Homo sapiens: one gene and its partners. The protein of the gene in region 3 purifies or fractionates together with the protein of the main gene of each other region. This does not show direct contact. Each region holds a gene or a part of one and is shown on either strand. Other genes may lie near its edges.

Region 1 (3,648 bases), on a different chromosome or scaffold from region 3:
CAGCGGGGGGGTGGGACCTGCTGCCGGACGCCTGCCTCCGGCTCCCCTCCAGTGCCTGTGGAGCAGGAGAAGGAAGCCGGGCAACCGCAGGCAGCGGCAGCGGGATGGGCACCTCTGGGACCTATCTGTGCCGGCAGCCTGCCTGTTCCTCACAGAGGGTCTCCACTCCCGCCGGCAGGCTTGGGAGGCGGCAGTGCCTCTGGGAAGACCACTGTGGCCAGAATGATCATCGAGGCCCTGGATGTGCCCTGGGTGGTCTTGCTGTCCATGGACTCCTTCTACAAGGTGGGCCCCCGCCCAGCTCCCCCGAGGACCCCTTTGTCCTCTCCCTGACCCTGGACCCCCTGCAAAAGTAGGTCCCTGGTCTCAGCCCCAGCGTGGCTGCTCCTGGGAGGCCTAGAGCCCCTGTCCGCTGGCATTGGGTGAGGGCCCTACTGTGCCCACAGCTGCTCCACAGCCTCCCCCACCAGGTGCTGACTGAGCAGCAGCAGGAACAGGCCGCACACAACAACTTCAACTTCGACCACCCAGATGCCTTTGACTTCGACCTCATCATTTCCACCCTCAAGAAGCTGAAGCAGGGGAAGAGTGTCAAGGTGCCCATTTATGACTTCACCACGCACAGCCGGAAGAAGGACTGGGTAGGCCAGGGCCCTGCAGAGGGGGCCTCGGGGGGCTGCAGGCACATGAGCCAGGCTCCGCAACTCCTGGGTTTCTTCACAGAAAACACTGTATGGTGCAAACGTCATCATCTTTGAGGGCATCATGGCCTTTGCTGACAAGACACTGTTGGAGGTAAGCACCCGCCGGGAATACCCACCCCGCTGGTATCTCAGCCCTGGCCGCCCTGTCCATGAGGTGTGCGTCCTCCTGCCCTGTCCCCAAGGCCTCCACACTGTATAGGCCTAGGCCAGCCACTCCCTACCCCAACCCCAACCCCAGGCATGCCACAGCTGGGTCCATCTGCCGGCCCCAAAAGGCAGAGCGTGGCTGCCTGAGGCAGTGGTTCCTCTCCACCGGCTGAGGCCTGTGCGCATACCTGGAGTGTCCTTGGCGTTCTCGTCCCTTGCCGTGGTCCTGACGGACAGGTGAGGACCCAGGGCTGGTGTGTTTGAGAGATTTTGCTGTAGCTCAAGGGGGCCTTCAGGACACAGCTGAGTGTGACTCAGGTTGGCCTGATCCCAGGGCCCAGGTCCTGCCCCTTGTACAGGCCCAGAGGACTCCATCATCCGGCACATAGCAGCCCCCAGCCTCCACAAGGCCTCTTCACGGGCCAACTACTGTGTGCTGAGCATGGGGACAGACCCTAAACTCGCCACGTCCCCCATTCCCCAGTGTGTTGGTGCAAGTTACCCCAAGCAAAGTAAGGAGATCACATGTGCCCAGCCCCATTCCTGCCTGATTCCTTAGCCAGCCACCATGCCATGCCTCTTCACCTAAGCCCCTGACGGGCAGCACCGCATCCCCAGACACCCCCACCTCCCCACTCCTTCCCACCTGCCAGGGTGCCCTGGGGAAGTGGCTCGGGCCAGGCCCACGGACCAGGTGCAGACACCCCCACCTCCCCACTCCTCCCCACCTGCCAGGGTGCCCTGGGGAAGTGGCTCTGGCCAGGCCCACGGACCAGGCGGCCTCAGTGCAGGGGCTGGTCCCAGTGTCTCCATGCCCACTGCTGGCATCTGGCCACTCACTGGCCCGCTGTCTCCACCAGCTCCTGGACATGAAGATCTTTGTGGACACAGACTCCGACATCCGCCTGGTACGGCGGCTGCGCCGGGACATCAGTGAGCGCGGCCGGGACATCGAGGGTGTCATCAAGCAGTACAACAAGTTTGTCAAGCCCTCCTTCGACCAGTACATCCAGCCCACCATGCGCCTGGCAGACATCGTGGTCCCCAGAGGTGAGCCTGCTGGGCTGCCTGTTGGGTGGGTGTCGGGCAGGCCAACGGCCCAGCCCCCGGTCACCCGCCCCCCCATCCCGCCCCAGGGAGCGGCAACACGGTGGCCATCGACCTGATTGTGCAGCACGTGCACAGCCAGCTGGAGGAGGTGAGCGGGGTCCCACGTCCCCACGGCCTAGCCCCCAGCCCCTCTACCCACTTCTCCGCTGCCACCACCCCCAGTGGCCTGGTCACCTCATCCCCCTGCGTTCACTGTCCCCTGCCAGGTGCCAGCCCTGAGTGTCCTGAGCCTGCTTGGCCAGTCAGATTGTCCAGCCCAGACCCCATCCCGTTGTGCTGTGCAGGGCCTGGGTTCCCTGAGGAAGCTGGGGTGGGGGTACAGGTGCTCAGGACCCAGCCGAGGGTGCAGCCCGCTCAGCACACCCAGCCTGAGCTTTTGGGAAGACAGGCATGACCTGCTGGCCCAGGATTGTGGGGTTTCACTGCTGAGTCCCACGCCAGGCCAGGCTCCTCTCTTTCTCAGGGGGTCACCCCAGGAGCGACACCCCCACCAGAGGTCCCCTGCTCCCTGAGGCATTCTATGGCTGGGCCTTGGAGCCTGAGTGGCTCTGAACACACTCCCTACCAGGATGTTGAAGGCCTGAGGCCTGCAGAACAGAGCCCAGGGTCCTGGCTCTGATTGCCCCAACGCAGAACTGCAGGTCTGGCCCAGGTGGTCCCCAGGTTACAGGCATTAGAAGCTTGCCACCCCCCATGGCTGGCTGTGTCCCCGCGGGCCTGCAGCATGTCCATTCCTGGGTGGGGGTGGCCTGGCCGCCTGCCCTGGTCACTGACGCGCCACCGTTCCCTTGTGTCTTCCTGTGTTGCTGCCACAGCGTGAACTCAGCGTCAGGTAAGACTTGCACAGCTGTCTGCACAGATGGAGGCACTTCCAACACCTCCAAGGAGCTCTGGGGTCTGGGCTGTGATCCAGCCAGGCAGCTGGCTCTTCCCCAGTCACAGAAGGGGTGGTGTGGAGTGGTCCCAGCCCTGCTTCTGCCTCCCCTTGCTGGCAGATGAGGACACTGAGGCACAGAGACGTGAAGTAGCTTGCCCAGCGTCACGGAGTCCTGACCCTGTCCTGGCCAGACTTTGCTGGAGGCTCCCCTGACTCCTGAGTCTGTCTATGGGATTTGACCCCAGAGAGCACAGCTGTCCTCCTGAGCCAGCACTGCCAGGCCTCTGGGGCAGTGACTACAGACATGTCCCAGCAGCCAGGGAGCCTGCTGTACCTCCTGTGCCCAGCCTCACGGACCAGTCAGCTTTCCCTGGTTGCAGGTGGAGGGCCTCGCGCCTGTCCTCCCACCCACCCGGGTCCTGCTTGCCCCAGCTCTGTCCTCGCAGCCCGCACAGCTCTGCCAGCAGGAACTGGGCAACTGCAGCAAGAAGCTTGGGCTGGGCCGGGGCCGCATCCCACTGTCCCTCCCCAAGGGCAGGCATGCAGGGGGGTCAGCCACAAGGGACCTGCCCTTCTCCCTGCCTTCTGTGGGTTGGGAGGCTCCTGACTGAGCCACCTGGAGGGAGAGCCCTCACATTCAGAGCCCTCCAAAGAGTTTGCCAAATGTTGGAAATGCCTCCAGGGCCCGTCCACCAGCCGTCCAGCTTCCGGTGCCTGCATGAGTCTCCGCTTGGCCCTCTCCTCGGCCTAGGAACCCGCAGGTCTTGTCCCGTCAGGTTCCTCCTGAAGCTTTTGTTCTGAGAGGAAAAA
Region 2 (3,648 bases), on a different chromosome or scaffold from region 3:
CAACACACCTGGCTAATTTTCATATTTTTTGTAGAGACAGGGTTTCGCCGTGTTGCCCAGGCTGTTCTCAAACTCCTGTCCTCAAGTGATCCACCTGCCTCAGCCTCCCAAAGTGCTGAGATTACAGGTGTGAGCCACTGCGTCCAGCCTAACAAATACTTTTTAAGGGCACATATCATTGGTAAGTTGTGAAAGCAGTCATGAAATGTCATATGTCATTAGGGAATTGTATTTGAGAGTTAAACTGTGTGTAGAAATTTCACATAAGAAAATATCAGGGTATCCTGCAAGTGTCAGCTCGATGTAAATGGATGTGATTTTGACACCGCAGTCATCAATATAGTCTGGGCCACGTTCACTGACGTCCAGAGGAGGAAGGGAGATGGCCCTCCTGGCTCTTTGGTTGGACCCCTTCTGGAGGCTGGATTCAGACCTCTGTCACATTTTAAGAAGACATTGGTGAATTAGAGTGTGTTTAGTTGATATCCTGGAAGAGTAGGAACTCTAGAAATCTTTTCATATGAGAACAGTTAAAAGGAACTGGAAGTGTTCAGTGTGGAGAAGGGAAAACTTAGGCAATATGTGATGTTTGAAGGGCCCACGTGGGAAAGAGATTAAAACTTTAATCTTTATCCAAGCTGGAATCCACAGACCAGAATTATGGATATATTGCAGTTCAGTGTGAGATGACCTTTCTAACAATTAGTGCAGGTATAGAGACTTTTTAAGCATTTATAAAGTGGTTATCAAAAGCAGACAGGGCTCTTGAGCTTCAGAGCTGCAGTATCCTCCTTTTCTCCCCAAGACGAATTGGGTTTATCTCATAAGCATTATTTTTATTTTTATTTATTTTTGAGACAGAGTCTCACTCTGTTGCCCAGGCAGTGGCGTGATCTCAGCTCACTGCAACCTCTGCCTCCTGGGTTCAAGCAATTCTCCTGCCTCAGCCTCCCAAGTAGCTGGGATTACAGGCGCCTACCACCACAGCTAGGTAATTTCTTGTATTTTTTTTTTTTTTTTAAGTAGAGACGGGGTTTCACCATGTTGGCGAGGCTAGTCTGGAACTCCTGACCTCAGGTGATCCAGCCGCCTCAGCCTCCCAAGGTGCTGGGATTACAGGCATCAGCCACTGCACCCAGCCTCATGAGCATTATTTTTAAAAGACTTGTAGTAACTTGGATCAAATGCTTCTGGTTTTAGTAGTTTAAGAGTACATGGATAGAGTTAAGTGGATATTTACATTCTGAGTCTCTCAAGTCTAAATTTTTATTTTGAAAGTTCTGAGAAAATAGATGTTTTAAGCTACAAAGACAGGTAATTGTCTTGAACCCAGGCCATGCTGTGGAGACGTTCACTGTCCGTAGACTAGTTTTGCATTGACAGTAGAAACAGGAAAGTAAATTGCTAAAAAACATTCATTTTTCTTTGACTTCAGCCAGGCACAGTGGCTCATGCCTATAACCCCAGCACTTTTGGAGGACAAGGTGGGAGGATTGCTTGAACCGAGGAGTTTGACACCAGCCTGGGCGATATAGTAAAAACCCCGTCTCTACCAAAAAAAAAAAAAAAAAATGCCAGGCGTGGTGTGGCATGCGCCAGTGGTCCCAATTCCTTGGGAGACTGACGTAGGAGGATCTCTTGAGCCCAGGAGGTTTGAGGCTGCAGTGAGCTATGATCATGCCACCACACTCCATCCTGGGCAACTTTAGCAAGACCCATTCTCAAAAAAAAAATAAATAAATAACACTTTTGGGCCGGGCGCGGTGGCTCACACCTATAATCCCAGCACTTTGGGAAGCCGAGGCAGGCGGATCACAAGGTCAAGAGATCGAGACCATCCTGGCCAACATGGTGAAAACCCATCTCTGCTAAAAATACAAAAAGTAGCTGGACATACTGGTGCCCGCCTGTAGTCCCAGCTACTCGGGAGGCTGAAGCAGGAGAATTGCTTGAACCCAGGAGGCGGAGGTTGCAGTGAGCCAAGATCGCGCCACTGCCCTCCAGCCTGGTGACAGAGCAAGACTCCGTCTCAAAAAAAAAAAACAAAAACAAACAAAAAAAAAACTTTTTTTTTTAATTGACTTCATTACAAAATACGATGGTGATTTGGACACTTAAAATGTCAAGTGGTTCTGAAAGAGATATCTCACATGTGTAATGTTTTGCCTCTCTCCAAATTAGGAATGGCTTTCTAAAGGACATGGGGAATACAGAGAAATCCCTAGTGAAAGAGACTTTTTTCAAGAAGTCAAGGAGAGTGAAAATGTGGTTTGCCATTTCTACAGAGACTCCACATTCAGGTAACTTTGTTTCCATCTGTGACTTTTTCTAAAAAAACACAGTGAATTGTTTGGCTGGAGATATACTGGCTTACTAGAGAAATGAAGAAAACTAAAAGAAAAAACTTCCTAAGTTGTTTCATTGTACTCTCTCATATGTTATTTAGTATTAAGTTAAGCAGGCAGGGGCCCAGTGACTCAAGCCTGCAATCTCAGCACTTTGGGAGGCCAAGTGGGGGGTGGATCACTTGAGGTCAGGAGTTCAAGACCAGCCTGGCCAACATGGCGAAACCCTGCCTCTACTAAAACTACAAAATTAGCCGGGTGTGGTGGCAGGTACCTGTAGTCTCAGCTACTGGGGAGGCTGAGGTGGGAGAATTGCTTGAACCCAGGAGACAGAGGTTGCAGTGAGCGGAGATCGCGACACTGCACTTCAGCTCGAGCGATAGAGTGAGACTCCATCTCAAAAAAGAAAGAAAAAAAAAGTTAATTGTTATTTTAAAGAGTAACTTAAAGAACAGTTACATGCAAAAGTATAAATGAATATTACTGAAAGTCAATATTCCCATATAAATGGCTTATATTTTTGAATTGTATTTTCACTAGCTAACTAAAAACATCTTAGAAATGTACACTTAAAATTCTTATCACCATGACAGTAATTATTTCCCTCTAGTATTGTGATGTAGCCATGATATTGGGAACGGGCAACAGCTGTTGAGAGTCAGTGTTCCTTCAGTTCCTCCTTGAAGGAACTAGCAACTGTGGTGGGGAGATGGTGGCTTGGCCAAACCTTTCACCAGAGCAGAGTTGGGACTGCCAGTCTTGGCTAGAAGGAGAAGTGATTTTTCTTAGACCACCCTAGGTCTCCAAATTTCTCTAAGGAAGCAGATCTCTTATAAAATGTTAATACCTCCTCAGAAGAGGTCACATCGTAAACCAAAGGACCCAAGCCTTTGTGGTTTTTTGTGCACAGATTTGATTAGTTGCCAACACTTAAAAATCGAGAGATAACTCCTTTTGAAAATATCCACACTTAGAATTTTTCTTTAAAAAATCAGAAAACTTGCTAATAGCATAGCTGGAACTATGATGGCAGTCATCTGCTGACTGGCACCTGCCTACCCAGGACAGACAAGCACTGTGCTCTAGAGTCTCTGGCACTCACTGTGGTTTCAGCCCTGCTCTCTTTCTCATTTCTGTGGCCTTCTTGCCCCTTTGTCTTGATCTCACAACCCAACAGCTTCATTGTTAGTTAACACCTTTCAAGAATTGATTGCCTGGTATTCATTGACTAAGAGAATAAAAATGAAACAAAATATTGAGATGGTGAAATCCCTTGTGAGGAACAGTGAGAGAAGGGATTAGG
Region 3 (3,648 bases):
CCTCCTGCCCGCCCCTCTCTCAGCCATGCTGTGGCTTCTGGACAAGCTGACAGCTGTGTGCTGTGTGTCTGTCTGTGTCCACCCCTGCAGGCAGCCTGCCCTATGAGTACAAGATCGTGATCGCGGGCAACCACGAGCTGACCTTTGACCAGGAGTTCATGCAGCTTCCTCCTGCCCGCCCCTCTCTCAGCCGTGCTGTGGCTTCTGGACAAGCTGACGGCTGTGTGCTGTGTGTCTGTCTGTGTCCACCCCTGCAGGCAGCCTGCCCTACGAGTACAAGATCGTGATCGCAGGCAACCACGAGCTGACCTTTGACCAGGAGTTCATGGCCGACCTCATCAAGCAGGACTTTTACTACTTCCCATCTGTGTCGAAGCTGAAGCCGGAGAACTATGAGAATGTGCAGTCGCTGCTGACCAACTGCATCTACCTTCAGGACTCGGAGGTCACCGTGCGGGGCTTCCGGATCTATGGCTCCCCATGGTGAGTGGGCCTGGGTGCTGGTCCTGCCTGCTGGTGAGACCAGAGCTGAGGCTGAGCGCAGGGGGTGTAGGGGATGGGAGTAGCAGCAGGGAGCTCCGGATGCGAGGCTCAGGACTGAATCTTGACCCCTTACCCTCTGTGTGACCTAGGCAGGTCACCGCTGCTCTCTGGGCCTGTTTTCCCACATCTCACTGAAAATAGTATTATCAGCTGTAACCTGTGTTATGCTATGCTGTACTAGCTCACTTACAGGCAGGTACTATTATCTCCATTTTACAGGTGAGGAAACTGAGGCCCACAGTGGGTGAGGACCTTGCCAAAGGTCACACAGCTAGGAAGGGGCAGAGCTGGGATTAAACCCAAGCAATTTGGTTCCAGAACCCCTGCCTTTAATGAATATTCTATAATGCTAGGAATCTTTCTCTAATGCTGTCTTCCTGCTCCATACAAAAAAAGATGCATATGTCAGGGGCTGGGGGAGATGATGATCGTAATAATGATGATATTGGTGATGATGGTGATGGTGATGATGGTGGTGATGATCATCATGATGATGGTTGTGGTGGTGGTGGTGGTGGTGATGTGATGGTGATGGTGGTGATGATGATGGTTGTGGTGGTGGTGGTGGTGGTGATGGTGGTGATGATGGTGGTGATGGTGATGATGGTGGTGATGATCGTCATGATGATGGTTGTGGTGGTGATGTGGTGATGGTGATGTGGTGATGGTGATGATGGTGGTGGTGATGATGGTGGTGATGGTGATGATGATGGTTGTGGTGGTGGTGGTGGTGGTGATGATGATGATGAGGGTGAGGGTGAGGGTGATGATAGTATGGTGATGGTGGTGGTGTGATGATGATATTGAGGGTAGTGATGGTGATAATGATGGTGATGATGATGGCGATGCTGCTGATGATGGTGATGATGGTGGTTATGCTGATGGTGATGATGGTGAAGATGGTGATGGTGGTATGGTGATGATGTGATGATGGTAATGAGGATGATTACGGTGGTGGTGGTAGTGATGGTGGTGATGATGATGGTGGTGGTGGTGGTGTGATCATAATGGTGAGGGTAGTGATGGTGATAATGATGGTGATGATCATGGTGGGGGTGGTGGTGATGATGATGATGGTGATGGCAGGAAATAATTTCTGAGCAATTACAGTAATCTGGGCCCTAGGCTAAAGGCTCTATAAACCTTATCTCTAATCCTTACTCAGCCCTGTGAGGACTGATTTATTATCCCTATTCTATAGGTGGACAGAATGAGCGGCCACAGGGTGCCCAGTGCTGGCAGGGTGAGGTGGGCTTCATACATGGAAGGGCAAGATCACATATGCTTAAAAGTGTGGCTTGATCCTGGAAGGCTCCCTGGAGGAGGTGGGGTAACCTGAGCCTTGAGGGAAGAGAAGGGTATTCACAGGCAGGGAGGAGTAACGTGGCCTGAGGCTGCACTATCAGGAAGCAGCACAGTCAGCGAGGCTAAGGAGCCCTTTAGAGGCACAAAGGGCTTGCCTGGGTGGAAGGACTTCAGAGAGAGCTACTGCCAGCACAGAGCATCTGGGAAACCCCTGTGGCCCTGGTTGGTGCCTCATGGTGACCACCTAGTGGCTGGAGGCGGCAGGCAGATTTAGGACCTGGTTTCATCTTGCCATAGCCTCCTCATGGAGCAGAGGGGAAGGTGGGGAGGTGCAGGGCTGTCTCATCTTCCCTGGCCTCGGCAGGTGCCTGCTGTCATCTCCCTGGACTTCACGATGTACAGGGTCTTGGTGAACCCTCCCTGCAGCCAGTGAGGTCCCAGACAAGGACCTCTGGGCACTTGAGGATGTGATGAGGTCAGTACCAAGGACAAGGAGAGGAGGGGAGGTGGCTGAGTCTGCCTCACCGGCCACTAGAGCTCAGATCTGGAGAAGTCTGATAGGCCAAAAACCAGGAGGGCCGTCTAGAAGGAGGACCCAGCAAGCTTTCCCCTTGACCCCCCTACCAGCCAGGTGCACACACACAGCCTGTGCCATGCCAGGGAGTGGGAGAAGCCGAAGGACAGAGAAGGGAACTCGAGCCCAGGAGGTGGGTTCAGGGGCCCTGCTACCCTGCTCCAGAAGGGGTTTGGTGAGATCCAGGAGGGCTCCCTGTTGGAGGGGGCATTTGAACTGGGGCCAAAAGAGGCATGAGATTTCCACAGGCAGAGGAGGCAGAGGGAGACCACATGTCTGAACCTCTGTTATGTGTCAGGCCCTGTGCCAGGCTCTTCTTGGGCCTGTCACTTGACAGCCCTTAACACAAGGGCTGAACGCCCCCTCTCTCCATCCCGCAAGGGAGGCTGTGAGCTGGTGCTCCTCCTGTTCCTCTCAGGCCCTGTCTGGGGCTGGGAGCAGGTGGTGGAGGTGAGACCTGGGCTCATTTGTTGGGCAAGTTTCACTCAGTTTCCAACCGGGGTGAGCAGATTGCCTGCGTCTGCTGCTGTGGTGCCACGGAATGGATGCCAAGCCACTCTGGCCGCTACCCTCCCCTGGGAGGCTGGGTCCCTGCCACCATGCCCCAGCAGAGAGTGTCTGGGAAACCCCTGGGCTGCCCTGGTTGGTGCCACATGGTGGCCACCTGGCGGCTGGAGGCTGTGGGCAGATTTAGGACCTGGTCTCATCTTGCCACGGCCTCCTCATGGAGCAGAGGGGAAGATGGGGAGGTGCAGGGCTGTCTCATCTTCCCTGGCCTCGGCAGGTGCCTGCTGTCATCTCCCTGGACTTCACGATGTACAGGGTCTTGGTGAACCCTCCCTGCAGCCAGTGAGGTCCCAGACAAGGGCCTTTGGGTACTGGAGGCTGTTCAAATTGGGATACCACCACTTTTCAGCTGTGTGACTTTGGGCAGGTGGCTCAGCCTCTCTGGTCTTTCTGTGTAGTGGGGAAACGACACCGCCTGCCTTGTTGGGGGGTTGTGAGGTCTGCTTGGGCCCATCCAGGTGAAGGCCTGGCTCAAAGGAAGGCCCTGGAGAGTGGCTGTGGTCATTTATTATTACTGGGGTGCTCCTTGGGGAGCGAGGAAGAGGATAACTATTTAGTTTTATTCCACAAACCCCAAGGCAGGGCTAGGCCTGCAATTACCCCATTTTACAGAAGGGCAGGTAGAGGTTCAGGCAGGGATGTGGCTTGTCCAGGGCACC

What was found.
Region 1: the proteins of MPPED1 (region 3) and UCKL1 purify together in Homo sapiens (affinity purification with mass spectrometry; 3 studies listed by BioGRID and IntAct, with this or other methods). This does not show direct contact.
Region 2: the proteins of MPPED1 (region 3) and TXNDC9 purify together in Homo sapiens (affinity purification with mass spectrometry; 4 studies listed by BioGRID and IntAct, with this or other methods). This does not show direct contact.

The regions. Positions count from the first base shown.
Region 1 is NC_000020.11:63,942,798-63,946,445, reverse strand, and holds part of UCKL1 (uridine-cytidine kinase-like 1), read left to right. Parts: intron 1-178; coding exon 179-285; intron 286-446; coding exon of another isoform or gene 447-470; coding exon 471-641; intron 642-723; coding exon 724-795; intron 796-919; exon of another isoform or gene 920-1,363; intron 1,364-1,711; coding exon 1,712-1,901; intron 1,902-1,987; coding exon 1,988-2,049; intron 2,050-2,424; coding exon of another isoform or gene 2,425-2,580; exon of another isoform or gene 2,581-2,776; coding exon 2,777-2,793; exon of another isoform or gene 2,794-2,889; intron 2,890-3,648.
Region 2 is NC_000002.12:99,326,187-99,329,834, reverse strand, and holds part of TXNDC9 (thioredoxin domain-containing protein 9), read left to right. Parts: intron 1-2,181; coding exon 2,182-2,300; intron 2,301-3,648. UniProt on the Homo sapiens protein: Significantly diminishes the chaperonin TCP1 complex ATPase activity, thus negatively impacts protein folding, including that of actin or tubulin.
Region 3 is NC_000022.11:43,474,479-43,478,126, forward strand, and holds part of MPPED1 (metallophosphoesterase domain-containing protein 1 precursor), read left to right. Parts: intron 1-257; coding exon 258-483; intron 484-3,648. UniProt on the Homo sapiens protein: May have metallophosphoesterase activity (in vitro).